3 linked regions of the Homo sapiens genome follow. The protein of the gene in region 3 interacts with the protein of the main gene of each other region in a pairwise test. Each region holds a gene or a part of one and is shown on either strand. Other genes may lie near its edges.

Region 1 (2,687 bases), on a different chromosome or scaffold from region 3:
TCCTCACATGTAATCCACATAAATCAAATATGCTGCTCCAAGGGAATAGGGCATTGTATTGGGTGGTGAGAGAACAGTGGCTGCCACTTATATAAAACTTATTACATAACAGGCAGTATTCTAAGTGCTGTATATATTAACTCACTTAATCTTCAGACTGTCCTAATAAGGTGGGTACTATTAATGCCAGTTTTATAGATGCAGAAACAGATATACAGAAAATGAGGGAATTTGTCCCAGCTCACTTGGCTAGAAGTGGAAAAGCACAAATGCAAATTCAGACCCAGAGCCCACGATCTGACCCACTCTACTCTCTGGTTCTAACAGTTAGGGAATACCAACTACATGTCGGTCAATTGTGCTCAAGTCTTTCCATACATGATCTTGTTTCATCTTCACAATAACCCTTTGTGATGGGTATGATTCTCTCCATTCTACAGATTTCTAAATACAAGGCTCAGAGGAGCTAAGAAACTTGCCCAAAAGTCACATGGCTAGTGAGGTGAGTTGGAATTTAAACCGTATTGTTGTCTCCAAAGCCATGTTCTTCTGATACCTCATATCACACTTAGGGGCATTTTATTTCCAGATGGAGTAAAGGTTAAAGAAAAAAATAATCAGAGGGAAGATTTTCAGGAGGAAAAGAACTTCAGAATGTTTGAAGAATGAGAAGAACTGGCCAATCTAGATGTCCATCTCCAGAGGAACCTCTGCTGTGGGGCTGGAATGGCCAACATAATGGGAGGCCTGGACCCCAAGGAAATCTGCAGTAGAGATGGCCTCCATGCATCTTGAGGACCAGATACTGTCTTCAGGCAGCACTGTAAGCCTTTGAAACTGGCTTTGCCACACAGACCATCAGGGCCAGCACACCAAGACTGAAAGTCTAGGTGAGAAAAATGGGATGACAAACCATGTGATTCAACTGCCTTGGCACTGCTGGAACTTTTTTTTTTTTATTTGAGATGGAGTTTCACTCTTGTTGCCCAGGCTGGAGTGCAATGGCACAATCTCAGCTCACCGCAACCTCCACCTCCCAGGTTCAAGCGATTCTCCTGCCTCAGCCTCCCTAGTAGCTGGGATTACAGGCATGTGCCACCGCACCCGGCTAATTTTGTATTTTTAGTAGAGACGGTGTTTCTCCGTGTTGGTCAGGCTGGTCTCGAACTCCCGACCTCAGGTAATCCGCCCACCTCGGCCTCCCAAAGTGCTGGGATCACAGGCGTGAGCCACCACGCCCGGCCTACTGCTGGCATTCTTTCAAAATACTTGACTAACATCCAAGACCTAGGTTGCCCCATCAGGCCCATAAATTACCAGATTTAAATTAGCCCTAGTGAGCCCTCTGAATCTATAGGGAATTCTCTTGCTTACTGCTGTACGAAAGGTTAGAAAAAAAAGCTGCTTCCCAGGAGCCTTGGGTATACACACCAACACTAGTGGAGTCCGCAGGCACAATTTGTAACAGTTTTATTGAAATCTAATTTGCATAATAAAAGGTACCATCTGAAGTACACAATTTAGTGACTTTTATGGAGTTGTATATCCATCACCAAAATCAAGTTATAGAGTATTTGCATCATGCCAAAAATACCAATTATCTTCATTTGTAGTCAGTCTTTACTCCCATCTCCAGCCCCAGGCAACCATTAATTTGCTCTTGGTCTCTATAACTGCGCATTTTTTGGACATTTCATATAAATAGAATCACCCAATATGTAGCGTTTTGCATCTGGCTTCTTTCACTTAGTGTAATGTAATTGAGGTTCATCCATAATGTAGCCTGTATCAGTAGTTCACCTTTTTATTGTTGAATAATATTATATGATACCAAATTTTGTTTATCATTCACCAATTGATGGACATTTTGAGTTGTTTCTACTCCTTGGCTATTATAAAGAAATTCTGCTATGAGCCTTTGTGAAGAAGTCTGTGTGTGAACATATATTTTCATTTCTCTTGGGTAGATAATAAAGTGAAATTGCTAGGTTGTATAGAAAAATCTATCTTTAGCTTTTTAAAAAAGATACTGCCAAATGTTCTCAAAGTGGAGAAGTAGATGTGCCATTTTACATCCCACCAGCAACGTATAAACATTCTCATTTCTCCACATCCTTGTCAATATTTGTTATCATCTGTGTTTTTAAATTATTATAGACATTCCAATGGGTATTTAGTAGTATCTTGCAGTGTCATTTACATTTCTCTAATGACTAATGATGTTGAGTATCTCTGCATGCACTTATCCGCTCTTCATGTGCTTTCATTGGTAAAATATTGAGATGTTTTGCCCATTTTAAAATTAGATTGTCTTCTTATTGAGTTATAGAATTCTTTGCATGTTCTAAATACAAATCTTACACCAGGTATGTGATTTACAAATTTTTTTCCAAGTCTATCACTTCTCTTTTCATTTTCTTATTATTTTAACAAAACACCCACCTGACACCTGACTCTTTTCATTTCTTAATGGTGTCTTTCTAAGTGCCCAAAGGTTTTGAATTGCGATAAAGTCCTATTTATATCTTTAATAAATCATGCTTTTGATGCCATGTCTAAATTCTTTGCCTGTCCCAAGATATCATAGATTTTTCTCCCATGTTTTATTTTGAAACATTTATAGTTTTAGCTATTACATTTAGGTTTCTGACTCTTTTGAGTTTGGATGCGGTAACTTCGTCTTTTTG
Region 2 (3,657 bases), on a different chromosome or scaffold from region 3:
CTGCCCCTCCCCTGGGGTTCTTCCACCCACACTTGACCAAGCACTTTCCCAAGCAGCACAGGCCATAGAGGACCCCTTTACAGGACAAGAAACTGAGCGTGGAGAATGAAGTGCCTATCCATCGTGTCATGGTTCCTCAGAGGTTCCAGCCGAGCCCTTCCGACTCCAAATCTGGCCCTAGCTCCTCCACCCCTGCACCCACCGCCCCAGCTCACCCCTCCTTTTTCCAGCCACCCTGATAGTGATGTCACACTTCTCTGCTTCAATGCTCTTTATTTCATTAGGAAAGTAGCTGGGCAGGGGTGTTCCCCTGGGGGATGGAGTGGGGGTACAGACAGTAGCCTGGCTCCTGTCCCCTAGGATTGACAAACCTGTAGAGGAGAAGCAGAGGCGAGGCCTGAGCAAGGGGCTCTGGGGTGGTTCTGTGTGCTTGCCTGGCAGAGAAGGGGTTCTGAGAGGCCCCCTGATCTGTCACCCCCCACTTGGAAGGGGGGTCCCCAGGCAGGACTTGCTTAACCCAGGGCTTGAGAGGCAGGGCTGGCCCATAACGGTTGCCCACACAACCAGAGCAGCTGAGTGTGGGGATCCCCAGCCCCTTACCAAGGGCTCAGGGCTCAGCTGTGTGCCACGCAGCGGCTGCTGTGAGGTGTGTTCTGGTAGAAGGGGTCAGCTGAGGTCAGGGTTCTGCAGGGAGGCAAGAGGAGAGTGTTGGGGGTGTTGGCAGGCAGGGCATGGACCTTGTCTTCTTGTCTTCTGCCTGACCCTCCCTGAGAGAGCATAGCCAGGGTTCAGCCAGGGCAGCCAAGCCACAAACATTCTTTGCCTGCCAACTCTGGGCCATTGTTGATATAAATGTAATTTCTGAGGAATTGAATTGAGCAGAAAGGAGCTGAGTGAGGCCGAACCACAGTCCATTCATCTCTGGATCCGTCCCCGCATCCCCCTCTGGATCTGAACCACCCCAGAGCCCCTTGCTCAGATCCTCCCCATCCAGTCCACCGGGCCTGGGGAACAGGGGCAGGAGAGGGAGGAGGAGCCATCTGAGGGAGGGGTCACTGGAAGGAGAGGAGGGGAGGAGCCTGTGCTAGCAGGAGAAGGGACACCAGAGCCAGCCAGAGGAGATGGGCCTCTCATAGGAATGAACCGGACTGACAGCAAGAGAGGAGAGGAAGGGAAAGGCCTGGCACACGGCCTGGATGAGGGGTAGGGAGAAAGAACAGAGCTGGGGGTGGTGCCACCTTCCCACGTGGGGATGCAGGTGCCGCAGGCTCTCCATGGGGTTGGGGGTGGCCTCCATGCAGCTGACCGGCTGGCTGAGGGCGTAGCCTCCTGGCATCTGGGGCTGGATGCCACCTCGAGTCCAGCCTTCCTGGTCTAGACCCTTGGGGATGTTCTCAAAGTACCTGGAGGAGAGGAGGGGTCCTTGGCTGGAAGCTGGACTCTGCCCACCTCTGCAACCCCTGCTGCCCTTCTCCATCGACCCTCAGATCGCCCAGCCTCCCCACCTTTGCTCATGCTGTCCTCGTCTAGCTCTCCCTAAGCCCACGTCCACTGGGGGAACTCTTACTCAAAAAGCCTGCCCTCCCCTCCACCTGACGCTGAAACACTCTTTGGAGTGTTAAAGGACAGTTTCAGTGATGCCCCTGTCCCTGGCCTGCCAGTACCTTGGGGTGGGGACCCCGTCTCATCCACTTCTCTAGGCACTTAACTTTCCTTCCATTTCATTTCCATTTCCTTCCATTTCACTGAGCACAGCCAGGTCCAGAGGGTGCAAAGACAAGTAAGAAGGGGGTCCCACCCTTGAACTTATGAAGAGGGGGTGCAGACAGATCAATGCAGGAATCAGTGATGACAATCCCGGGGCTCTGCGCGCACCAGGAAGCACCAGCAAGCGTGCCTGACAGCCAGCAGGAGCTCAGGACACAACAGGACACGACAGGCTGGAAGGACCCAGCAGACAGGACTGGAGCTGGTCTCTGCCAGAGCCACAGGAGGAGGTGTTTGCCTAAGAAGGGGTCAGAACATCGTTGCCCCTCCCCCACCTCCGTGGGAACTGGAGCGGCCACTGTGCTGAGTCTGCTGTGCGGGCGGAAGCTCTGCTCCTCCCCTCTGAGCCTCAGGGTTTAGGCCAGAGGACAACAAACGGCCCTTCCAGCTCAGACTCTCTGTTGCTCCTCCAGGACACCGCCCTCCCCTCTTTTCAGTCTCAGTTCAAACGTCACCTGCTCAAGGCCACCGATTTCAAATCCGACCCGTGCGCACTGCAGCCCTCGCGATCCCTTTCTCTTTGCGCATTACCTAACAGCTCTCGCTAACTGGCTGCAGCCACATGCATGTCTCCTCCCATGCAGAGGTCTGAGCTCCGTAGGGCAGGAGCTGCACACACATTCCCAGGGCCTGGAGCAGGGCTTGGCACCCAGTCAGGGCTCAGTTAAAGTCTATTCCATGAATGGATTCTGGGAGGTATCCCGGAGCAGGGGGTGGGGCAGGGGGAGGAGACAGAGAGGTGGCAGGGACACCTTGAAGGACCAGGAGTTGGAGAGGAAGCAGGGTGGACACAGGTGACTGATGTTGTGAGGAAAGCTTGCGCTTCCTGGCTCGGAGTTTGTCCTAAGAATTATACTTCCTGGAGGCGGGCAGATCACGAGGTCAGGAGATCAAGACCATCCTGGCTAACACAGTGAAACCCTGTCTCTACTAAAAATACAAAAATGTAGCCGGGCGTGGTGGCAGGCGCCTGTAGTCCCAGCTACTCGGGAGGCTGAGGCAGGAGAATGGCGTGAACCCGGGAGGCGGGGTTTGCAGTGAGCCGAGATCGCACCACTGCACTCCAGCCTGGACGACAGAGAGAGACTCCATCTTAAAAAAAAAAAAAAAAAAAAAGGAATTGTACTTCTTGGCAGGACACGGTGGCTCATGCCTGTTATCCCAGCACTTTGGGAGGCCAAAGCAGGCAGATCACTTGAGGTCAGGAGTTCAAGACCAGCCGGGCCAACATGGCGAAACCCCATCTCTACTAAAAATACAAAAATTAGCTGGGCATGGTGGCACATGCCTGTAATCCCAGCTATTTAGGAGGGTGAGACAGGAGGATCACTTGAACCCATGAGGCGAAGGTTGCGGTGAGCTGAGATCACGCCATTGCACTCCAGCCTGGGCGACAGAGTGAAACTCCATCTCAAAAAAAAAAAAAAAAGAAGAAGAAGAATTACACTTCCTTTATACCACTCCTATAATGCTTTCCCCACCCAGTCCTGGCCCCAGGAGGCTTCCCCATGGCTCTGGGGCCACCTCCTTCCTGGAAGCCCTCCCTGATGCCCAGGACAGTCACTCCTAACCCAGGGAATGCACAGCACAGAATTTACCTTCTGAGGGAGCATCGAGCCCACCAACCATTGGCTGGATGGAATGTCTTAGCAGATGCTGCTGCTCCAGACTCCCTCGCACTGCCCTGTTCTTTCCATGCCCACCAGCCTGGCCACCAATGCCCTGCATCTCTGTGGGAAAGCTACCCTTGGGATGCTAGAAGCTGCTTTGCCTGAGCAAGGAGGCACCTGGGCTTTAATGTTGCCCTGGGGATAGCCTTTAACCAATGACCGATGGATGTGGGGGTATAAATACCCCAGCTCTCTCACCTTTGACTGGGGTAGTTCTGAG
Region 3 (3,657 bases):
TGGGCTGTATTTTCTTGTCCAGTGCTTTTCTCATTACTTTGGAGGAAAGACAGTCTGGAATGGGGTGTCAGACCTGGGCAGGGTGAGCAGGGCATTCCTGCAGGCAAACAGCCTGTTATGGGGAGTTGGAACCCACACAAGTGAGGAGGGATCCATGCAGCAGAGGCAGCCTGGAATGGGGAGTCAGGGCCCATGGAGCGGGAAGAGGTATCTATAAGGTGGAAAGGACGGAGTTAGAGAGCGGGGATTGATTCATACAGGGGAACTCATTAATATGTAAATAAACCAATGAAAGTGAAAGCTGTCAGCAAAGGGAGTTGCAATTAAGGAATGGAAGTAAATCAGATTGAACCCTATGGTGCTGTATTAGATCTGGATCAAACAGTATAGACTAGTGGTCATAGAGATATTGATGTAGATATATAGATACAGGCCAGACACGGTGGCTCATACCTGTAATCCCAGCACTTTGGGAAGCTGAAGCAGGTGGATCACTTGAGGACAGGAGTTCAAGATCACAAACATGGTGAAACCCCGTCTCTACTACAAATACAAAAATGAGCCAGGCGTGGTGGCACACACCTGTTGTCCCAGCTACTCGGGAGGCTGAGGCAGGAGAATTGCTTGAACCAGGGAGGTGGAGGCTGCAGTGAGCTCAGATTGCGCCACTGCACTCTAGCCTGGGTGACAGAGTGAGACTCGGTCTCAAAAAAAAAAAAAAGATATATAGATATAGAAATAAATACAGATGTAATGTGTGTATACGTACACCCATTATTATATTTACACTTACTCCCTAACTCCACTGAGAAGGCCTGGGAGCAGTAATACCCCAAAAGCATGAGTACATCTAGTGCACAGCTTTTGGCTTCTGATTTTCACTTTCCACTGAAAGAGATCAGGGCTCTTTAGAGGTATGTTCCAGAAAGCAGTCAAGTGAGCAAAGAACAAATGGGGTTGTATCTGGGAGATGCAGAAGCCAGCTTGAGTGGGGTTTGTCACTGGTCAAATCAGGGACAGTTTGAGGATCAAATTAACGATAGTAATGGATTTAAGCCCATTGAATAAAGATAAAATACTGATACAAATAACTAAATGAATACATTGAAAATTCGATGAGGAATGGGATATTTATATAGTTTCAAAGGACGTATCCATGAAATGAAAATTAAAGTTATTAATTACAGAAGGGTGAAAGAGTAACATTACAGGGAGGAAGACTGGCAGACGCCATCCTAATAAAGTAATTAAAATGAACATCATCAGTAATGAAAAAAATGAAAACATGCCAGTTTATAGGATGGGATGAGAACACAGCATCACCTCTGTACTGTTTTTGCCAAAAATCCATAACGTGAGTCCCATCATTAGGAAATATCAGACAAACTCAAATTGAGAAATGTTTTATACAATTGGCCTGTAACCTGTAAAAGTGTCAAGATCATAAAAGTCAAGAAAAGGTTGAGAAACTATTCCAGAGTTTTGTTGCCAACACATGGCAACAAAATGAAAAGTGTGACCCTGAACTGTATCCTTTTGCTATAAAGATGTTATTGGGAAAATTCGAGAAACTTGAATGGGGTCTTCTTAGATGACAGGGTCCCCTTGTGTGGTTCCCACAAAGACATTCTCCTTCATAACCACAATACAATATATCTCATTTACTAAGGGGACACTGAAGTATTCTAAGGATAGGGAATCAGGTGAACAACTTACTCTCAGAGAACTCAGGGGATAAAAGTTCTTTATATTGTACTTAATTTTAACAGTTTTACTTTTAAAAAAGTTTTACTTTTAAAAAAGTATTTTTTTAATGGTGGCTATTAAAACATATGAAGCATTTTTTTAAATGGTGGCCACCATGTAGGGTATCTGCTAAGTCTGCTCTATACTCTCAGAATTGCCTCTCCCATCTATAGGGGTGGGTTCCTGTATTTCTGAACTATGTGGCTCTGATCCCAGGGAATAAAGGTGGATTCCACACTCAAGCCATGTCAACAAAATTCTGTCTTCTACGAATTTGTATTTGGAAATCAGAAGCTAATTAGTTTCTACTGCCTACTTCAAACCTAGAAAACACGTAAACTGAAAAACTCCATCTGACATTTTGGGGTAGCTGTCTTCTACAGTGAGCATAGGGTAGACAAATCTGGTCTGCAGAGAGGGAAAATAGCAAAGCAGATAGATACCCAGAGAGAAGTAGATACAGGAGACAAGGCCCAAGAGAGAACGAAAGGCACTCCAATTCTAGTCCCTCATGAAGCCTCAGCTCCTGTAGGATACTACAGCACCCGCACAAAGTTCCTCCTTTTTGTGCAGGCCAGCTTGAGTGGATTTCTGCCAGTTGTAGACAAAAGTCTGTGACATCTCCTTCCCTACCTTGTGCTAAACTTTACAGCAACCCTGCTCCTTCTACAATAGGTCTCTTGGTGCCACTGTCAAGGGTGACTCTTTGATCATTGGTGTGACCCAAACATAACACCACTTAAGGGATCCAAGGATCTCAAGTCGGTTTCACTCACCAAGGCTGGCCTCGGCCAACAGCAGGTAAGCAGGCACAAGCTCTACGGAGCTCAGGCCATACAGCTTCACACGGAAGCGAAGGGACTGCAAAGCTGCTGGTACAGCATCTTCGTGTTTCCCTTCAAAGAGGTATTTCTGGGCTATGGTGTAGCAGAATTCAATCAAATACTTCTGTGGAAGAGAGAAACAGACTATCTGAGACAGTCTAAAGTTAAAGGCAAAGGTGGATGTAGATGGCCCTGGGGATAAGGCCAACACCTAATGACCCAGTTAAAGGCACATAGTGAGCCTGCCTGTATTAGAGTGGACGTGAAGCCCCACATAAGTGATATAAGAAAGCAAACTCTGGACTATGAGTTCCTTAAGGCCCAGGAACATGTGTATTTTCATCTTAGTTCAGCGCTTGGCATAGATGAATGCTCAATATAGAGTTATCAGATGAATAAATGAGTATTGTTTTTACAGTTCTAATAAAACTTTACTTTAGCAAAGCTAGCATGTCTCAGGACAATCTGAAACTTTCTGCCTTCCTAGTTGAGTTAATTTTGAGAGAAACATCTCATTTTCCCTTCCAGAATTATCCTGTTTAGCTAATATCACAAAAAACTTTAACTCTGCATTGTTCTAAGGCCACTATCAAAGTGTCATAACACTAAAATGGATGGATCTTATGTTTAGAGATTTATGGCTTATAATAAGGGGCTAATTTTTTAGAGTGATTGAGATGCTCAATACTCAATAATACTCAACACTATACATAATAATAGTGGCAGGTTTTGGTAACCTCCTTTATTTATTCAGTAGTATATCCATACATCATTCTTAACCCTCCTATTATGTGGCCAGACTCTTGGCATCTGTGGATGTTATGGGCTGAACTGTGTCCCCTGCCAAAATTCATGTGTTGAAGCCCTATCCTGCAGTCTGTCACATGACTATAATTGGAGCTAGGGCCTGTAGAGTGGTGATTAAGTTAGAATGAGGCCATTAGGGTGGGCCCTAACCTAATCTGACTTGTGTCTTTATAAAAAGAGGAAATTGGACACACAAAGAGATACCAGGCATGCTTGCACACAAAGGACCATGTGAAGACACTGTAGGAAGGCAGCCATCTGAAAGCCAGGAAGAGAGGCC

Evidence for each region.
Region 1: the proteins of ZMYND12 (region 3) and SAXO1 interact in binary tests that used the Homo sapiens proteins (3 or more experiments, as listed by UniProt).
Region 2: the proteins of ZMYND12 (region 3) and SAXO4 interact in binary tests that used the Homo sapiens proteins (3 or more experiments, as listed by UniProt).

What each region holds. Positions count from the first base shown.
Region 1 is NC_000009.12:18,929,555-18,932,241, forward strand, and holds part of SAXO1 (stabilizer of axonemal microtubules 1), read right to left. Parts: intron 1-2,687. UniProt on the Homo sapiens protein: May play a role in the regulation of cilium length. Stabilizes microtubules at low temperature.
Region 2 is NC_000011.10:61,487,528-61,491,184, reverse strand, and holds the end of SAXO4 (stabilizer of axonemal microtubules 4), read right to left. Parts: intron 1,404-3,657; coding exon 1,239-1,403; intron 685-1,238; coding exon 615-684; 3' UTR 601-614; intron 372-600; 3' UTR 257-371; downstream 1-256.
Region 3 is NC_000001.11:42,445,945-42,449,601, forward strand, and holds part of ZMYND12 (zinc finger MYND domain-containing protein 12), read right to left. Parts: intron 2,695-3,657; coding exon 2,523-2,694; intron 1-2,522. UniProt on the Homo sapiens protein: Required for sperm flagellum function and male fertility.